Homo sapiens: one gene and its partner. The protein of the gene in region 2 purifies or fractionates together with the protein of the main gene of each other region. This does not show direct contact. Each region holds a gene or a part of one and is shown on either strand. Other genes may lie near its edges.

Region 1 (8,715 bases), on a different chromosome or scaffold from region 2:
CCTGGCTGTTGAAGCAGTTCTTGACATTTTAAAGTAATATGTGATGATATTTTTAAAAAATGAGAAAAATGGGTGTATATAGTCATTAGCAGGTAAAGTTGCTGCTCCAGTTTTTTCTTTTGCTATCTATTTTCAAGATATTTTGTTCACATTTCAATGACTAGAGGAAAGAGAGAAGCTGCACGAAACCTAAATTATGCTTTTGTGGAATTCTTCTGAAGGTGAGAGGTAGAAAATATGACCAAGGTAAAAATGTACATTGTACGTTGTTTTATTTACCAAAGTGGTTGAAATGATAAAGTATAAGGAAGTTTACTTACTTTGGAAGCTTTAAGGCTTATAAAAAATTAATTAATACTATTACTTGCAAACAACCCTCACCATCCAATATATACAAATGAAAAGGCGAGCAGGCAGAGTGTGGACTGTCGATTCTCACTTATGACTGAAGGCCCATTGCTGGATGACTTTCCCCCCCTTTTCAACTCATTTCAGACTTCAGGAGTTGATGGAAATGATAGCATCTATGTCTGTATTTTTTTCAAAGGTATTTGATGGTTGGATTCTCAAGGGGGAGAAGTTCCCCAGTTCCCAGGATCATCCTCTCCCCTCAGCTGAGCGGTACATAGATTTCTGTGAGAGTGGTCTTAGCAGGAGGAGCATCAGATCTTCCCAGAATGTGGCCATGATCTTCTTCCGAGTCCATGAACCAGGAAATGGATTCACATTAACCATAAAGACAGACCCCAACCTCTTTCGTAAGTGTTCTCAGTCAAAAGGCAGAACTTCGGATATAGACCCGCTTTTTGAAAGTAGTATCATTGCACAGACTTAAAGAAATTTGAACTGAGGAATGATTTGAATGGAAATTTTTTTGTAATTAGAAATGACCTAAAGGATAGTTTCTATTCTTTATTATGAAAATCAAATCACAGTTTTTAATTTATTTCCCAGGTTAGGTAGTATACTAATTTATGAAGAGTACAATTCTATCTTTTCTCCAAAGTCTTGCTCTGAGCTTCTCAGGTTCTACAATGCATTTAGTGATAAGCTTTAATCTTCCAAGTCATTTCACTAATCCAGGATAAGCTTGAGTGATCAGATATAAAGTTGCAGTCTTAGAGATATTCAGGCACAGGCTTGAAAGTCTCCATGTCTTTCAGCCTGTGCCTGAATGTGGTAGACCGATGTCATGCCCTGACCAGAGGGTTGGATTATAGCACCTCAATGTTACCTTCTGATTCTGAGCCCACCACTCTAATTCAATTCATTTATGATGGACACACACGTAGCTTATGCTACACAACTGAACAGCCCAGGTCTAAAGCATATTATCTTACTAAAAATATTTACTCCGCGGTGGCTCACGCCTGTAATCCCAGCACTTTGGGAGGCCAAGGCAGGCGGATCACGAGGTCAGGAGATCCAGACCGTCCTGGCTAACACAGTGAAACCCCATCTCTACTAAAAATGCAAAAAATTAGCTGGGCGTGGTGGTGGGCGCCTGTAGTCCCAGCTACTTGGGAGAGAATGGCGTGAACCTGGGAGGTGGAGCTTGCAGTGAGCTGAGATCGCGCCACTGCGCTCCAGCCGGGGTGACAAAGGGAGACTCTTGTCTCAAAAAAAAAAAAAAATGAATTTACTCATCTGCTAATTGTTTTTTCCCCATTAAGAGAAAAATCTGTTTAAAAAATTAGAAAAGGAACACATATCACTCATTTTTGCATACAGTAGAATTAATGGTAACACTTCATGCGGCTGAAAGATGGGGCCTTTATCTGCCAAAGAATAATGCACTACTGATCTTTTGATTTCTAGTTCTGAAAAAACAAAAGAATTTTTGAAAAAGCCCCCCAAAAAGGCTGTTCCTGAGGACTGCAACAGAAGAATTCTAGAAGACAAAATAAAGAGTTTCCCCTATATTTTGTTTAGTTAGAAATCAGAAACCTCCTGGGCCAGGCGTGGTGGCTCATGCCTGTAATCCTAGCACTTTGGGAGGCCGAGGAGGAGGATCACTTGAGCCCAGGAGTTTAAGATCAGGCTGGCCCACAAAGTGAGACCCTGTCTGTATTAAAACTTTTAAAAAAGTTTATTAAAAAAAGAAACTTCCTAGAACCATCAAGGAATTTCAGTCCTTTTTGAAAGTAAGTATAATTAAAAATATGAAAAGGAGGCAAGAGGTGTTTCTGATCTGTTCTGATCAATGTTGATTCATCCAGTAATCAGAAAAAAAAGTACAAATTCTGATGCTTCTAGTTTCATATCTAGACTAATTAATGTATTGTAAATTTATTTATTTGAGACGGAGTGTTGCTCTGTCACCCATGCTGGAGTGCAGTGGCACGATCTTGGCTCACTGCAACCTCTGCCTCTCGGGTTCAAGCAATTCTCTGCCTCAGCCTCCCGAGTAGCTGGGATTACAGGCGCCCGTCACCATGCCTGGCTAATTTTTGTGTTTTTAGTAGAGACAGAGTTTCACCATCTTGGCCAGGTTGGTCATGAACTCCTGACCTCGTGATCCACCCGCCTCGGCCTCCCAAAGTGCTGGGATTACAGGCGTGAGCCACCACTCCCGGCCAATGTATTGTAAATTTAGATTTGAGATATAAAACAAAAAATTGTAGAAGTTCTTGGGAGTAAATTAAACATTAAAAATGCACCTTTTAGTTAACTTATCACTTAACATGCAGCAAATATTTATCAGACTTAATACTGCTGTCTTTCATTTTTTTCTCAGCCTATTTTCTCACTATTAGAAAAATACTTAAAATAGGCCTGGCATGGGGGCTCACTCCTGTAATCCTACACTTTGGGAGGCTGAGGCAGGTGAATCCCTTGAGGTCAGGAGGTCGAGACCAGCCTGGCCAACGTGGTGAAACCCTGTCTCTACTAAAAATACAAAAATTAGCCAGATGTTGTGGCACATGTCTGTAGTCCCAGCTACTCAGGAGGCTGAGGCAGGAGAATCACTTGAACCCGGGAGGCAGAGGTTGCAGTGAGCTGAGATGGTGCCACTGCATTCTAGCCAGGGTGACAGAGCAAGATTCCATCTCAGAAAAAAAAAAAGAAAAGAAAAATACTTAAAATAAGCCTGGGGCCATGGTGAAGCTGCCGAGCTGCATCCTAGGCCCCCAGTTTTAAAATAAAAATTAAGTTTTTTTAAAAAAGAAAATAAGTAAGAATGAAAAAGAAAATACTTAAAATTATTTACTTTATTATTTAAAAATAGACAGAGTTTGAGTTTTGGACTCACCATTAAGCCTCGATTTTTCCAGATTCCTAGCTTTAAGCTGGACTCTAGTTAACTCAAGTGTTCCTAGAACTACTACCAGCTAGTATTTGTTTGGGTGCTGTGTTATGTCTTGTGATTGTTATAAACAAGGTAACCCCCTAAGATTAACATTAGAAGCCCCCTCACAGCCCAGGGCCTCCTGACAATATCCACGTGTCACTGATGGTTTTTGTTCCCCAAATCCTTCCTGTCTCCAAATTGCTTTTGTGGTATATATGCTCTCTTCCTGGGCAGAAGGCCCTAGATCATGAACAGGAGCCCTAGAATAAGATACAATAAATGTCTATAAAAACCTAGCAAACCAAGTAAAGGAAACGTGAATTTCTTTTTCTTTTCTACAAAGCTTGCAATGTCATTTCTCAGACTCCAAATGGAAAGTTTACCCTGGTAGTTCCACACCAGCATCGAAACTGCAGCTTCTCCATAATTTATCCTGTGGTGATCAAAATATCTGATCTTACCCTGGGACACGTAAATGGTCTTCAGTTAAAGGTGAGTTGCTTACTTGTTTCCTAACCGTTTGATAAGGCCACAACTTTATCAGAGCAGAAGCAATCATATAGGGAAAACCTGGACACTAGCAAATTGGCGTAGTACGTTGCTCTGATGAACTCTTAAATCTCAAATGTGTTTGCCCTAGCTGCTTTGACTAACCCCCTCTTCTATTTCAGTTATGCGGCAAGTTGCATACTCAGGTGCCCCTTCTGACTACTTGAATACTTTCCCTGTGATGTAAGAAGTGTTTTCAATTGGTAAAGTTGTGGTATATAATTACAATTGAACTCTCTTGTACTTGCCTCTTTTACAAAAATTCTCTCCTAGCAGAACGTAGTGTGAGTCATCTACACAGCTGTTTTTCTGATTATTGGAATTTTCTTTTGACATGAAGGAAGTATCTCATTGACAGAACTGCGTTGTGAAGGAGTGCTAACTGTAGCATAAAATACAAAATTGGATTTTTAGATTGCAAAATACAGTAAAGCTTTGAAAAGTATTTGGCATGACATTTAACTCAATACATTTTGCCTAAAAAATATTAGCCAAGAACCCCTATCAACTTGTTTTTGAATAAACTTCTGTATGGACCTTAAAATTCATGCTGAGTTTGACCGCATTTTCTTGCACTGGTAGCATTTTCCCTCTGAGTCATCCTCATTTCCTTCTACTTTCTCACATGACTAGGTTAAGATAACTCATGTATTTGCTGCTATCAAAGGCAGTCATAATTCCTAATCAGACAGATTTTAGTGAAAACCAAATAAATAGAACTAGGACTGAGAAAAGGAGTATATCCAATTTCCTTTAAGCCCTAAATTCATGGACTAGTGCCTGCTTTTTTTAAGTTGGAACTTAGTGGAAGAATAGTCCTTTGATAAGGACATTTTTGGGTATCTTTGGTACAGTTTTACTGGCTTGATATTATTTGTATGTCATTTTTGATGTAAAATATAGAAGATGAAAGGTGTGAGCACAGACTGGGAGATCTGCACTTTAGTTATTGGGGCTATGGGGGTAATCTTGGTGTTTCCTCCCGAACAATTTAGAGCCTACAGTGTTCTAGGCATCTGTTCCTTCACAAAATATTTTTTGAATGCTTACCATGTGCAAGGCACTATTGTAGATGCTGGAAATTAGCAATAAACAAGACAGGTCCTGCTCACAGGGACCCTGCATTCAAGTGGGATGAGACAGGCAAAATTGCCATGTATTTCAGTTGGTGATAAGTGCTATACAGAAAATGCAGCAGAGTAGTGTGGTAGACAGTGACTGGGAGCATGGGGGTGGATGGAGAGGCGCGGGGCTACTTGTGATAAAGTGGTCAGGAAAGAAACCTTTTGAGAAGTGAGACCTGGGTGATAGATCAGAAGGAACCAGCAGCTGTGAGAACAGGGAGCAGAGGGAACAGTGCAGGGGCTCAGAGGCAGGAATGGGCTTGCTGGATTCCAGACATGGAAAGAAGAGGAGGATTGGCATAAAACAGCTTCAGGGAGATGGGCAGGGCCAGAGTGTGGTGAGCCCTGCAGGCCACATTAGGGAGTTTAAGTGCAGTGGTAAACCACTGAAAGAGTTCAGGGAGGAAAGCAACATGATCTGATGTATGCTGTCTAAAACGTCACTGTGGCTTCCATGCAATGAATGGGCTGTAGGGCCATGCCACCCTTTTTATGGCTCTGGTGAGATGTTTCTTTAGTTATTATTAACATATCTATCAAGATTATTTTCTTAAACCTCCCAGATTTCTATGTATTGGAAGATGAGTTCCACCAAAATAAAACCAAAACCAAAAAACCTTCAATTTTGCACATTGAGTTGGTGTGAGGATCTTACATTTGGTACAAGGAATGTAAGTACTTTTTATTGTTTTTTGTTTTTTGTTTTTTTTTTGAGATGGAGTCTCGCTCTGTCGCCCAGGCTGGAGTGCAGACATGCAGTCTCGGCTCACTGCAACCTCTGCCTCCGAGGTTCAAGCAATTCTCCTGCCTCAGTCTCCTGAGTAGCTGGGATTACAAGCATGAGCCACCACACCTGGCTAATTTTTTTTTGTATTTTTAGTAGAGACAGGGTTTCACCATATTGGCCAGGCTGGTCTCAAACTCCTGACCTTGTGATCTGCCCGCCTCGGCCTCCCAAAGTGCTGGGATTACAAACATGAGCCACTGCTCCTGGCCAAGTACTTTTTTGGTACATTATTGTGGGCTAGGCAAAAGATAGTAGTGGCTTAGAACCTGAACAAAGAAATTTAGGGAATCCCTGTTGAGAAACTGAACTTGAGAGGTCCCTGCATAACTCAGTTTCTGCCATTGTAAGAAAAGCTGAGAGGTTTGCAAAGAAGGGAGAAAAATCATTGAACAGCAAGGAATAAGTGCACTTAACTTTCTTGTTTCTTTGTTTTGTTCCCCTCACTTTAGTTTCTATTTCTTCCTAGCTTCTTTATTTCCTACTTCTCTCTCCTGAGTCTGCCTTTTTGCCTGCAACAGCACCTGCTGAATTTTGGAACCTATAAAACTAAGTGGAAAATTTAGTTGTAAGAGATGTTCCTCCTGGACATCCTCTACTCAAGGGAAAGGCAATTAAAGTTTTTTTCCTTTACTGCTAAATTGCTTATTCCACTCTCAATACAAGAACATGAAGCCCTGTATACAGTGGGGCTAATTAAACCTCTTTCATCATTTGATGCAATTATGTATAAAGCCTCTAAGCATCAAACCCAGTACATAGTAGGTAGGCCCTTTAAAAATATGTATCCCCACCTGCCCCTGCTCATTAGTGAAGCAGTTGCCATTATGTTATTTTCCAATTTGCTGTTTAGTTCCAGTTGTATTCCAATGCTCTTCTGTGTTTTTTTGTTTGTTTTGTTTTGTTTTGTTTTTTCGGAGACAGAGTCTCACTCTGTCGCCCAGGCTGGAGTGCAGTGACGTGATCTTGGCTCACTGCAACCTCTGCCTCCCAGGTTCAAGTGATTCTCCCACCTCAGCTTCCCGAGTAGCTGGGACTACAGGTGTGTGCCACCGCGCTTGGCTAATTTTTGTATTTTTAGTGGAGACGGGGTTTCACCGTGTTGGCCAGGCTGGTCTCGAACTCCTGACCTCAAATGATCCACCTGCCTTGGCCTCCCAAAGTGCTGGAATTACAGGCGTGAGCCACCATGCTGGTCAGTGCCCTTCTAAATGCCTGAATGTGTGTGCTTATGTGTGTGTGTGGGTGTGTGTGTGTATTAAGTTCTCTATTTTAGATTTTGGTTCCTATGTGTTAAGGTCTATCTAGTGAAGTACTGAGCACCTTGTCACATTCTACTAGATCTCTTAATGAGCACACTTCAATGAAAAAGAGGATCACAGGCAAAATTGTGGGGACCAGTACAAATGAAAATGTGGGAGCCCTTATTACAATTTTATGAAAATGCAGCAGAACATTAAACCAAGCATAGAGCCCTTCTAGGCACTGGCTTTTTGTGGCTGCACAGGTGGCATACTTGTGAGACTGCCCTGGGGAGATGGGGGCTCAGAGTACTTTTGGGACTAAGAGTGGTTGCTTTGTTTGTGTTGGAAAGTGAGGCACGGGGATTGCTATGGACAAGACAGTGTGGAAAAAATGAAAAGGCTGGGTGAGGTGGCTCACACCTGTAATCCCAGCATTTTGGGAGTCCGAGGCAGGAGGATCCCTTGAGGTTAGGAGTTCAAGACCGGCCTGGGCAACATATCAAGGACCCATCTCTACAAAATTGAAAAAAAAAAAAAAGGGGGAAGCAGGAAAAGGTGATCATGGTGGACCACACAAAGCTTTAGAATGAATTCTTTTGAGTAGCTTGAAATAAATTTGTTTTAGTTGAAAGGAGAAAGATCATGGTAACTGTAGCTAACTTGGGCCCCAAATCAGGGTTTTATTATTTCTTTAACATACTCATAATTAATCAAAATTCTTATTGTTAGAAATGAGGTGTTCCAATAGCACACAAATTTCCTTTACAAAGAAGAAGAAAAGAGATGAGGTGAAGGAAAAACGGATGTGAAAGCCCTATTTATAAAATGTAGGTATTTGACTTCGCTTAGCTGTGACTGCATGCATTAAGAAATTGGAGTGATTCAGTATGTATGTCCAAATGATTTGAAAAGTAAAGCATTTTTTGGTTGAATTTCCACACATCTTATATGGAGTTTACAGATTTCCATTTTATCATTCCAGTCCTTGAGCTTAAAAAAAATGAAAAAAACATGTACACACATTTCTAAAAAAAATGATTACTCAACTGATTTAGAAAAGCAATTTTTATGATTTTTTCTCTTTTAAATGTCTTTTAATTTCCAGAGTCCCAGATGTTAAATTAAATGGTATTGCCAGGATGTTGAGGGCTGATTGAGTGAATTCATGGACCCGCTGTTGGTCAAATGGTTTGACTTCTGTAATTGGTTTAAATGTGTCTTTCTCTGCTGCTTTATTCCCTTAGAAATCCTCAGCAGGTTGCGAGGGAATAGGAGACTTTGTGGAGCTGCTGGGAGGAACTGGATTGGACCCTTCCAAGATGACGCCTTTAGCTGATCTCTGCTACCCCTTTCATGGCCCGGGTGAGGTATTTCTTTGATTGTTATGTATGTGCCTATCAAGATTAAAAAAAAATAAGCACTCCCCTAATATTTTCTACATTGGAAGGTGAGTTTCGCCAAAAAAGCCTTCAATTTTTCACACTGAGCCAGTATGAGGATTTGAGGCTATATATAACATCAGTATCTTTACCAAAATATCCGACACTGGGAGAGAAACCTTTGAAGCAATAAAGGTTGGCCTTAAGTAAAACTATGAAAAAGACAAAGCTTTTAAAATCTGCATTCTTTCCATTTTCTTGGGGGTCTCTGCTTTCATTTTCTAGAGACTAAAGAGTTTACTAACTGAAACACTTATGGTTCAAATAGTAGATGTATCATCAA
Region 2 (8,715 bases):
TTGAAGTTAGCCTCCTATTCTCCCACAGAGACTGGAAGATAAGGGCAGTGTCTTCTTTGATGCTGTGTTTCAAAGGGATGGTTTCCAGGTCCTTGAGAAAGACATTTCCTGGGTTGTAAAACCAATTAAAGTTTTCTGTAAAAAGATTTACATATATCTCAAAGAGATGGAGAAGGAATTTACAATGACAAGTTTTCTGAAGAAAATGCTCTAAGAAAAGGGAGGTAAGGGCCTAGAGTCAGGAATGGGCCCATATAAAGTTTAGTCGAGCTGAGGTTAAGGCTGTTTCAGTCAGGCTTTTGGAGTCAGTTTTTTAAATAGTGTCATCTCTTTGTGTCTGTTTTCTCATCTGTAAAAAGGGGATAATATTGTAAGCATTAAACTAGCAGCTATCATTTTTTTGTTCTTTAAAAATTTTATTTTTTTATTTTTTTGAGATGAAGTCTTGCTGTGTCGCCCAGGCTGGAGTGCAGTGGTGCAATCATAGCTCACTTCAGCCTCCAAACTTCCAGGTTCAAGTGATCCTCCCACCTCAGCCTCCTAAGTAGCTGAGATTACAGGCACACACCACTGTGCCTGGCTAAGTTTTTTAATTTCTTACAGAAACGGAGTCTCGCTTTGTTGCTCAGGCTGGTCTCAAACTCTTGGTTTTAAGCTATCCTCCTACGGTGCTGAGATTACAGGTGTGAGCTGCCACATCTGGCCTGTTTTTTTTTGTTTTGTTTTTGTTTTTGTTTTGAGAAGGGGTCTTTTTCTGTTGCCCAGGCTGGAGTGCAGTGGCACGATCTCCACTCACTGCAACCTCCACCTCCCAGGTTCAAGCAATCCTCCCACCTCAGCTTCCTGAGTAGCTGGTATTACAGGCACGCACCACCACATCTGGCTAATTTTTGTATTTTTTTTGTAGAGATGGGGTTTTGCCAAGTTGCCCAGGCTGGTCTCGAACTCTTGAGCTCAAGTGATCTGCCCACCCCGGCCCACCAAAGTGTTTTGATTACACCACGCCCGGCTCTGGGATGTTCTTATTTCAAAAATCTTCTCATCCAGCTTATAATATTGAAAATTAGGTGACAGAAACTCAGATCAAGTGATTAGTTTAACTTCACACAGCTTAGTGCATTTTAGTGAATAGCTTTACTGTTATATCAACCAATACAAGTATTTAGTTTTAGTACTAGGAATTGTGGGTGTGATGGGGAGGATTTGAGGGTATAGAATTATTTAAAAACAATGTTGTTTTCTTCTGTCTCTTGTTTCGAAAGTTTTGGTGGGTGCTGATGAGTAGTGATAAAGAGAGATAATGGTTTCAAGGGAAACTTTTAGAGGAAGGAGGTGAGGTGTTGCTATATAGTAGTGTGGTGATATCTTTAAACACATACCATACTTACTACAATTAGTGTCTTTTTCTAAAGAGCAGACACTTGGGCCTTTATTTTATTGCTGCTACCATCATTTAACATAACTATGGACATGACTTTAAAACCTGTGACACATTCTTTTTCTCAGTGATCCTTTGAGATGGATTTAGTTACCTGAGGCAACCAAACATCATTTGGAACCAAAATGAATCAATTTAGGCAATAGAATGTTTTGTCAGAAACAAGATATGAATATAAAATTGTTGAATTGTCTTTTAGGTCTTGTAAATTGACTCCCTGAAGGAGTTTCCCATATGCTTTACATTCTTTCTTGTTGAGATAAGTATACTAAATGATAAGTGTACCAAATAAGGGGTTTGAAATTCTTAAAAAACTTTAAAAAAGCAAGCAGTGATCAGACATCGATACTGAAAGATTGTATCCACTTACAGAAACTAAGTCACATTTATATTTCTTTAATCCATCTAGTTTGGAAATGTTTATTCCCCTCTTTGGTTACAGCTCTTCTGCTTATTTTAAAGTAAGCCATGTTAATTTTGGAGTCAACTGGAATTTTTAACGTTGCTATAACCTGTATTAACTACTCAGACACAAATGTTGATAAACCCCAGGTTTTTATAAATTATTTTAAAAAAGAAATGGTTAGATTGTTTATAATGTCTTGGATTGCAAATGTCTGTATCTTCTTGAATTTGAGAAGATGATTTTTGAAATAACAATTTTTTTTTTCCCCTGAATTTTGTTTAGTCAGAATATCGGTGAAAGTATTCTTTACCTGTGGGTGGAGAAAATAAGAGATGTTCTTATACAAAAATCTCAGATGACAGAACCAGGTAGGATTGAAAAATACTATCAATACTCTTTTAACTTATAATAACTACATTTTTATGTAGATACTCTAGTTGAAATTTAATGTGAAAATCTGTATTCTGGTTTATGGTTTGTATATTATAAAATACAAGTTTCTCTGAAAAGTTTAATTGCTCATGTAATTATAGTTATTTATTTCTATAAGGTTTAGCCTCTTTGATTTTGTATTACAGTATTCCTCCTCATCTGAGATTTGGCTTTCCATGGTTTCAGTTACCTGTGGTCACCTGTTGTCTGAAAATATTAAATGGAAATTTCCAGAAATAATTCATAAGTTTTAAATTGTGTGCCATTCTGAAAATGTTATGAAACCTTGGGCTGTCCCATTCTGTCTAGGGTCTTGTCTAGGATTCTACATTGCTTTCCATTGTTGTTTCTCTTTACTCTCCTTTAGTCTGTAAACAGTTGTTCAGTGTTTCCTTGACTTATAACCTTGACACTTATGAAGACTACTGATAGTTATTTTGTAGAATGCCCCTCAATTTGGGTTTGTCCATTGTTTTCTCATGATTGGAGTGAGATTAGTAGCTGGGAGTGGTGGTGTACTCCCAGCTACTTTTAAAATTTTTTCTACAGACGAGGTCTCCCTATGTTGCCCAGGCTGATCTCAAACTCCTAAGCTCAAGTGATCCTCCTGCCTTGATCTCCCAAAGTGCTTGGATTACAGGTGTGAGTCACTGTGCCTATTGTATCATATGCCTTATTATTGGTGATATTTACCTTGATGTCTCGGTTACGGTGGTGTTCGCCAAATGTCTCCACTGTAAATGCTGTAGTCAGGGTTCTCCAGAGAAACAGAACCAATTGAATATATGTGTGTATATACATGTGTGTATGTACCCACACACAAAGAGAGAGAAATATATTTTAAGAAATTGGCTTATACAGTTGTGGAAGGTGGCAAGTCCAAAATTTGCAGGATAGGCTGGCAGGCTGGGGACCCAGGGAAGAATGAATGTTGCGGTTTGAAAACAAAGATGGTCTGCTGGAAAAATGTCCTCTTCTGGGGAGGTCAGTCTTTTAATGTTAAGGCCATCAGCTGATTGGATGAGGCCCATATGGAAGACAGTCTGCTTTACTCAAATTCAACTGACTTAATTGTTAATCTCATCCAAAAAATACCTTCAGAGAAAAATCTAAAATAGTGTTTAACCAAATATATGGGTATTGAGGCTGGGCACAGTGGCTTGCACCTATAATCCCAGCACTTTGGGAGGCCGAGGTGGGTGGATCACCTAAGGTCAGGAGTTCAGGACCAGCCTGGCCAACATGGTGAAACCCCGTCTCTACTAAAAATACAAGAATTACCCAGCACGTTGGGAGGCCGAGGCGGGCGGATCACGAGGTCAGGAGATCGAAACCATTCTGGCTAACACGATGAAACCCCGTCTGTACTAAAAATACAAAAAATTAGCCGGGCGCGGTGGCGGGTGCCTGTAGTCCCAGCTACTCGGGAGGCTGAGGCAGGAGAATGGCGTGAACCCGGGAGGCGGAGCCTGCAGTGAGCCGAGATCGCGCCACTGCACTCCAGCCTGGGCGACAGAGCGAGACTCCGGCTCAAAAAAAAAAAAAAAAAAAAAAAGAATTAGCCAGGCGTGGTGGTACGCACCTGTAATTGCAGCTACTTGGGAGGCTGAGGCAGGAGAATCACTTGAACCTGGGAGGCGGAGGTTGCAGCGAGCTGAGATGGTGCCACTGCACTCCAGCTTGGGTGACGGAATGAGACTCTGTGTCAAACAAAAGTAAACAAATATATGGGTACTGTGGCCTAGACAAGTTGACATGTAAGATTAACCATTGCAGTCACTGTCTTTCTCTTTGTAGCTTGAGGGAGATACTTTGAAGCTATGCTAATATCCTGTTTCTCCTTAAACTTTCTGCCACTAATTTTAGTATCTATCCATGGAACTTGTCAACAATATTTATTACTGTGGTGTTTGCCTGATGATGATTTTCTATTTTCTTCATTCCTTCCTCATTTAGTAATTGGAATTCTATTATGAGGAAGGGATGTCTCTTCCCATTTATGTATTTATTTATCTGTTTATTATTTATATCAGTATGGACTCATGTATATTATTTCAGTCCATGGGTTAAAATGCCATCCTATCATATTTTTTTGTTGCTCAAATTGTTCTAGCTTTGACCTTTAAGAGCCCCTTCAGGTTAACTCCTGTGTTCTTTTTATAAGCCCCATCTCTTTTTGAGCATTTCCCAGTTTGTGGATCCACATGAGGTTCCAGGTTCATCTTGTAGTTTCCTTGCTCCAACTCAGGAATCAACCAGTTCTCCTACGGGCTGAGTGCTGGTTCCTTTCGTTGAAGAGTGGTATTTAGAACCCAAGACCCAGTGATTTTTTTTTAAAAAGCATCGTTTCTTACCTGCGTCATAAAGTAATTGTGTCTCATATTCACATAGGCCCAGATGTAAAGAAGAAAACTGAAGAGGAAGATGTTGAATGTGAAGATGATCTCATTTTAGCATGTCAGCCGGAAAGTTCGCTTAAAGCATTGGATTTTGATATCAGTGAAACTCGGACAGGTATAATGTTACTAACTAATTTCTTTTGAGGAGAGTGGGTTGGTAGTATTATGTATTGTTCTTTGAGATGATAGAGAAATTTACTAATTTTCTCCAGTTTTAGGAAGGAGTTATTAATTTGCAGATAAGATTAATTTTTTCCTGCCTGTTGGCAATTTTGGTGTTTGCCAAGTCTTATCAGAATGGCAAGGAAAAAATGGAAATTTACTCTTTTCCCCCTACTTTCTAGAGTTTTGATTTAGTGATGGAAGAAATTGAAACTAAGAAAGGCTATTAACGTTTTTAGTTAACATCATGTTTTTATATTTCTGTATTGAAATCCTTAGCTGTTTCCTGATGTTTCAGGATTAAATTTTAGTCTGTGCTCACAAATACAAATATATTAACTGAAAGTGCAGCCCTGGAAATTAAAGCTAGTAAAATGCCTTTAAGAGGTTTTTTTTGAGAGACAAGGTCTCGCTGTGTTGCCCAAGTTGACCTTGAACTCCTGGGCTCAAGTGATCCTTCTACCTCAGCCTCCGAGTAGCTGGGACTACAAGCATGCACCATTGTGCCCAGCTTGAGTTCAGTTTTTGTTTGTTTGTTTGTTTTTTTGAGATAGAGTCTTGCTCTGTTGCCCGGGCTGGAGTGCAGTGGCACGATCTCAGTTCAATGCAACCTTGCCTCCCAAGTTCAGTGATTCTCCTGCCTCAGCCTCCTACGTATCTGGGATTACTGGCACATGCCACCATGCCTGTCTAATTTTTGTATTTTTAGTAGAGATTGGGTTTCGCCATGTTGGCCAGGCTGACCTCAAATGACCTACCCACCTCATCCTCCCAGAGTGCTGGGATTATTATAGGCGTGAGCCACCACGCCCGGCCTAGTTTTCGTTTAAACAAATTTGTTTCGTAATCGAGTAGTATTCAACATAAAAATAGGTTGCTGTGATATTATGTTTCATTTTAATATTTTAAAATTTTGAATGTTATTGTTAGTTTCCCTAAGCCTCTTAGGAAAACATGGTAGACCAGGGGGAATATTCATTCTGTTTGAAGGTGAGGGGTTTCCTGTGTCATTACACAGTAGCTTTTAAAAGGTGCTCTGAGTTTTAAGGCTTTTGAATGGTGTCCAGGACTAGTAGAAGGGAACAAAGAGGAAATGAAAGAGTGGGGAGCATCCAGGGCTCTCATTTATGCTCTAGCCTAAGTAGCTCCCATTTTAATCATTTATTTGTGTGTGGATTTGACATATGATATCTTTTGAAAACAGGATCTACCATGAAAAGAAAAAGGATAAAAATCATACTCATAAATAAATACTATCAATTGGTCAGTAGTTCATATTGACCCTAATACTGTATTTGACTTATTACTATGTTAGTACAGCAGTCAAAATCAATTCAGGAAAAGAACAGTATCAGAGGGAAGGTGTAAAACATCTTACATAAACCTACTTTCTTGTCTTGAATAACTTTTCATCCTAAGTGAGGCAGGTAGTAGTAGCCAGGACGATTAAGTCTCTCAACAGAATTGAGGGTTAATTAGTGATTCTTTTTTTTTTTTTTTTTTTTGGAGATGGAGTCTTGCTCTGTTGCCCAGGCTGGAGTTCAATGGCACAAACTCGGCTCACTGCAACCTCCGCCTCCCAGGTTCAAGCAATTTTCCTGCCTCAGCCTCCCGAGTAGCTGGAATTACAGGCACACGCCACCATGCCCAGCTAATTTTTGTATTTTAGTAGAGACGGGGGTTTCACCATGTTGGCCAGGCTGGTCTCAAACTCCTGAACTCAGGTGATCCACTCCCTCGGCCTCCCAAAGGGTTGGGATTGCAGGCGTGAGCCACCACGCCCAGCCATGATCCTTAAACTTGTTTTAAGAGGTATAATAACTGGAAATCATGATGCTCTTTAAGGAATACCAATTGGATGTATTATTGATGTATTTAATTCCATCATATGAAGTAGAAACAGTTTCATTAGCAGAAGGCATTATATTATAGCTACACAATATAAAGAATATAAATTCATAGTTTTCCCAACTCAGAGGTCTAACAACAGTGAAACTGATAAATAAATTTTATATTAGCAGCTATAAATCTTTGGTTTCAGGACTCCTTTACACTCTTAAAAATTATATATTAGATATTGTACCAACTTACACTACTGACTGCAGCAGTTCAAGATTAGTCCCAACCCACTGCTTCCCCTGGGTAACCTTGGCAGGTGGAAATCATTTATAAATCAAGTATTTTAATCTTATGTACAATATAGTTAGAAACTTTTTACTTAAAATTATAATTTAAATTTAATTTTGGTAGATAGCGATTAATGGTTATTTTAGTTGATTTGCCATGTAATTTACATTTCTTTCCCAGCTGCCCCCCCATTTCATTTTTTTCAGTATTTGAATGTAAGGCTTTTTAAAAAATAAAGTTTCTTTTACATTTCTAGAAGTAGAAGTAGAAGAATTACCTCCGATTGATCATGGCATTCCTATTACAGACCGAAGAAGTACTTTTCAGGCACACTTGGCTCCAGTGGTTTGTCCCAAACAGGTAAAGTTCCTTTGTCTAGCTCACTTTGATGATTACTAAAATAATTCAGGTAAATGATTTTGCAATAATCCCCTTGTTTTTACTTTTATGTTTTATTTTCATATAAGATAAAAATTATTTGTTCATTTTTCTACTCCCAAATTACTGTGAATCACGGAAGATTTGTTTTGTTTCTGTTTGTCTCTGCTTTCTTTCTTTTTTTTTGTGATGGTGTCTCACCATGTTGCCCAGGCTGGTCTCAATCTGGACTCAATCAGCCCTCCTGCCTCCAGCCCTCCCAATCCAAGGTATTGGGATTACAGGCATAAGCCACCTAGCCAGGCCTGTCACTGCTTTCAAAATTGTATCTAAACTCTGATTAGGGGTTAACCCTCTAATGAATCTTTAAATAAGAAATACCCATTGTGTTATTAGAGAAAATTATGATGCTTAATACCTTGTCAAAAAGAATTATTTGTCCTGTCGAATGGGAGTTCTGTGAAACTAAGTCCATTCCTCTGTTATTATTCAACAAAGGGGACAGTGGACAGACTGGCTAAACCAAGTCCTCCCTACCTGACTTACTTTCCTTTGTGCTTCTTGATCTTAGGTGACCATATTTCCACCCAGGGATATAAATGGGAGAGGTTTCAGCCATAAACTATTCCTAGGTCTTTGCCTTTCTCATTCTCCTTTCAGCAGAATCCTTTTCTTCTTCCTTGCTTCTATAATGTAGCTCAGCTTACATTATTGATGTACGAGGCAATTTCAATACTACCTGTAAAGTTACATTTTTAAAAATGTCTCATTTACTGCAGGTTTTAGGCATGAGTCTCTTCCTTTGGTCTTTGCAGCTACCCTACTCTTGAAGCTCTTTAAAGCCCTGGGCTTCAGGGATACAGCTCTTTGTACCAGGCTGTTTCACTCTCTGAAAGAGGAAGTTCTTTTCTGCGTTGACTTGTGGTCAAGATCATAACTTTTGGTGCAGACTTCTGGTCTTTTCTCTCAGGAATCCTATTTTGTCCCTGGCCCTTAGTCACATCTTCTTCCCAGGGTCCTCCTGAGACATTCTAATTCTGAATCTGTTTATTCTGGATCCTCTTTCTGTTTCTGATCACAGTCACTTAGATTTATAGCATTATAATTTGTGAGAGCTGAAACAAGTTTTAGAGGTCATTGTCTATTTTATTGATCAGAATTTGAGAACCTGAAAGATTATAAAATGATAAACAGAAGATTGCACAATTTGTGATCCAAATTGGTGTCCCCAACTCTAGCTCAGTCTTCCCTGCCACCAATATTTCTTCCATACTTCTTGCCATTACAACATCCCTGAAAAATCTGACCATGTGTCATTCTGTTCTCTCTCTTATCCACCTTCACACATGTAATCTTTGCTGATTTCCAATGTC

The links.
Region 1: the proteins of IMPACT (region 2) and CRHBP purify together in Homo sapiens (affinity purification with mass spectrometry; 2 studies listed by BioGRID and IntAct, with this or other methods). This does not show direct contact.

What each region holds. Positions count from the first base shown.
Region 1 is NC_000005.10:76,955,106-76,963,820, forward strand, and holds part of CRHBP (corticotropin-releasing factor-binding protein), read left to right. Parts: intron 1-547; coding exon 548-758; intron 759-3,635; coding exon 3,636-3,784; intron 3,785-8,237; coding exon 8,238-8,355; intron 8,356-8,715. UniProt on the Homo sapiens protein: Binds CRF and inactivates it. May prevent inappropriate pituitary-adrenal stimulation in pregnancy.
Region 2 is NC_000018.10:24,435,829-24,444,543, forward strand, and holds part of IMPACT (protein IMPACT), read left to right. Parts: intron 1-2,126; coding exon 2,127-2,212; intron 2,213-4,667; coding exon 4,668-4,790; intron 4,791-7,220; coding exon 7,221-7,324; intron 7,325-8,715. UniProt on the Homo sapiens protein: Translational regulator that ensures constant high levels of translation upon a variety of stress conditions, such as amino acid starvation, UV-C irradiation, proteasome inhibitor treatment and glucose deprivation.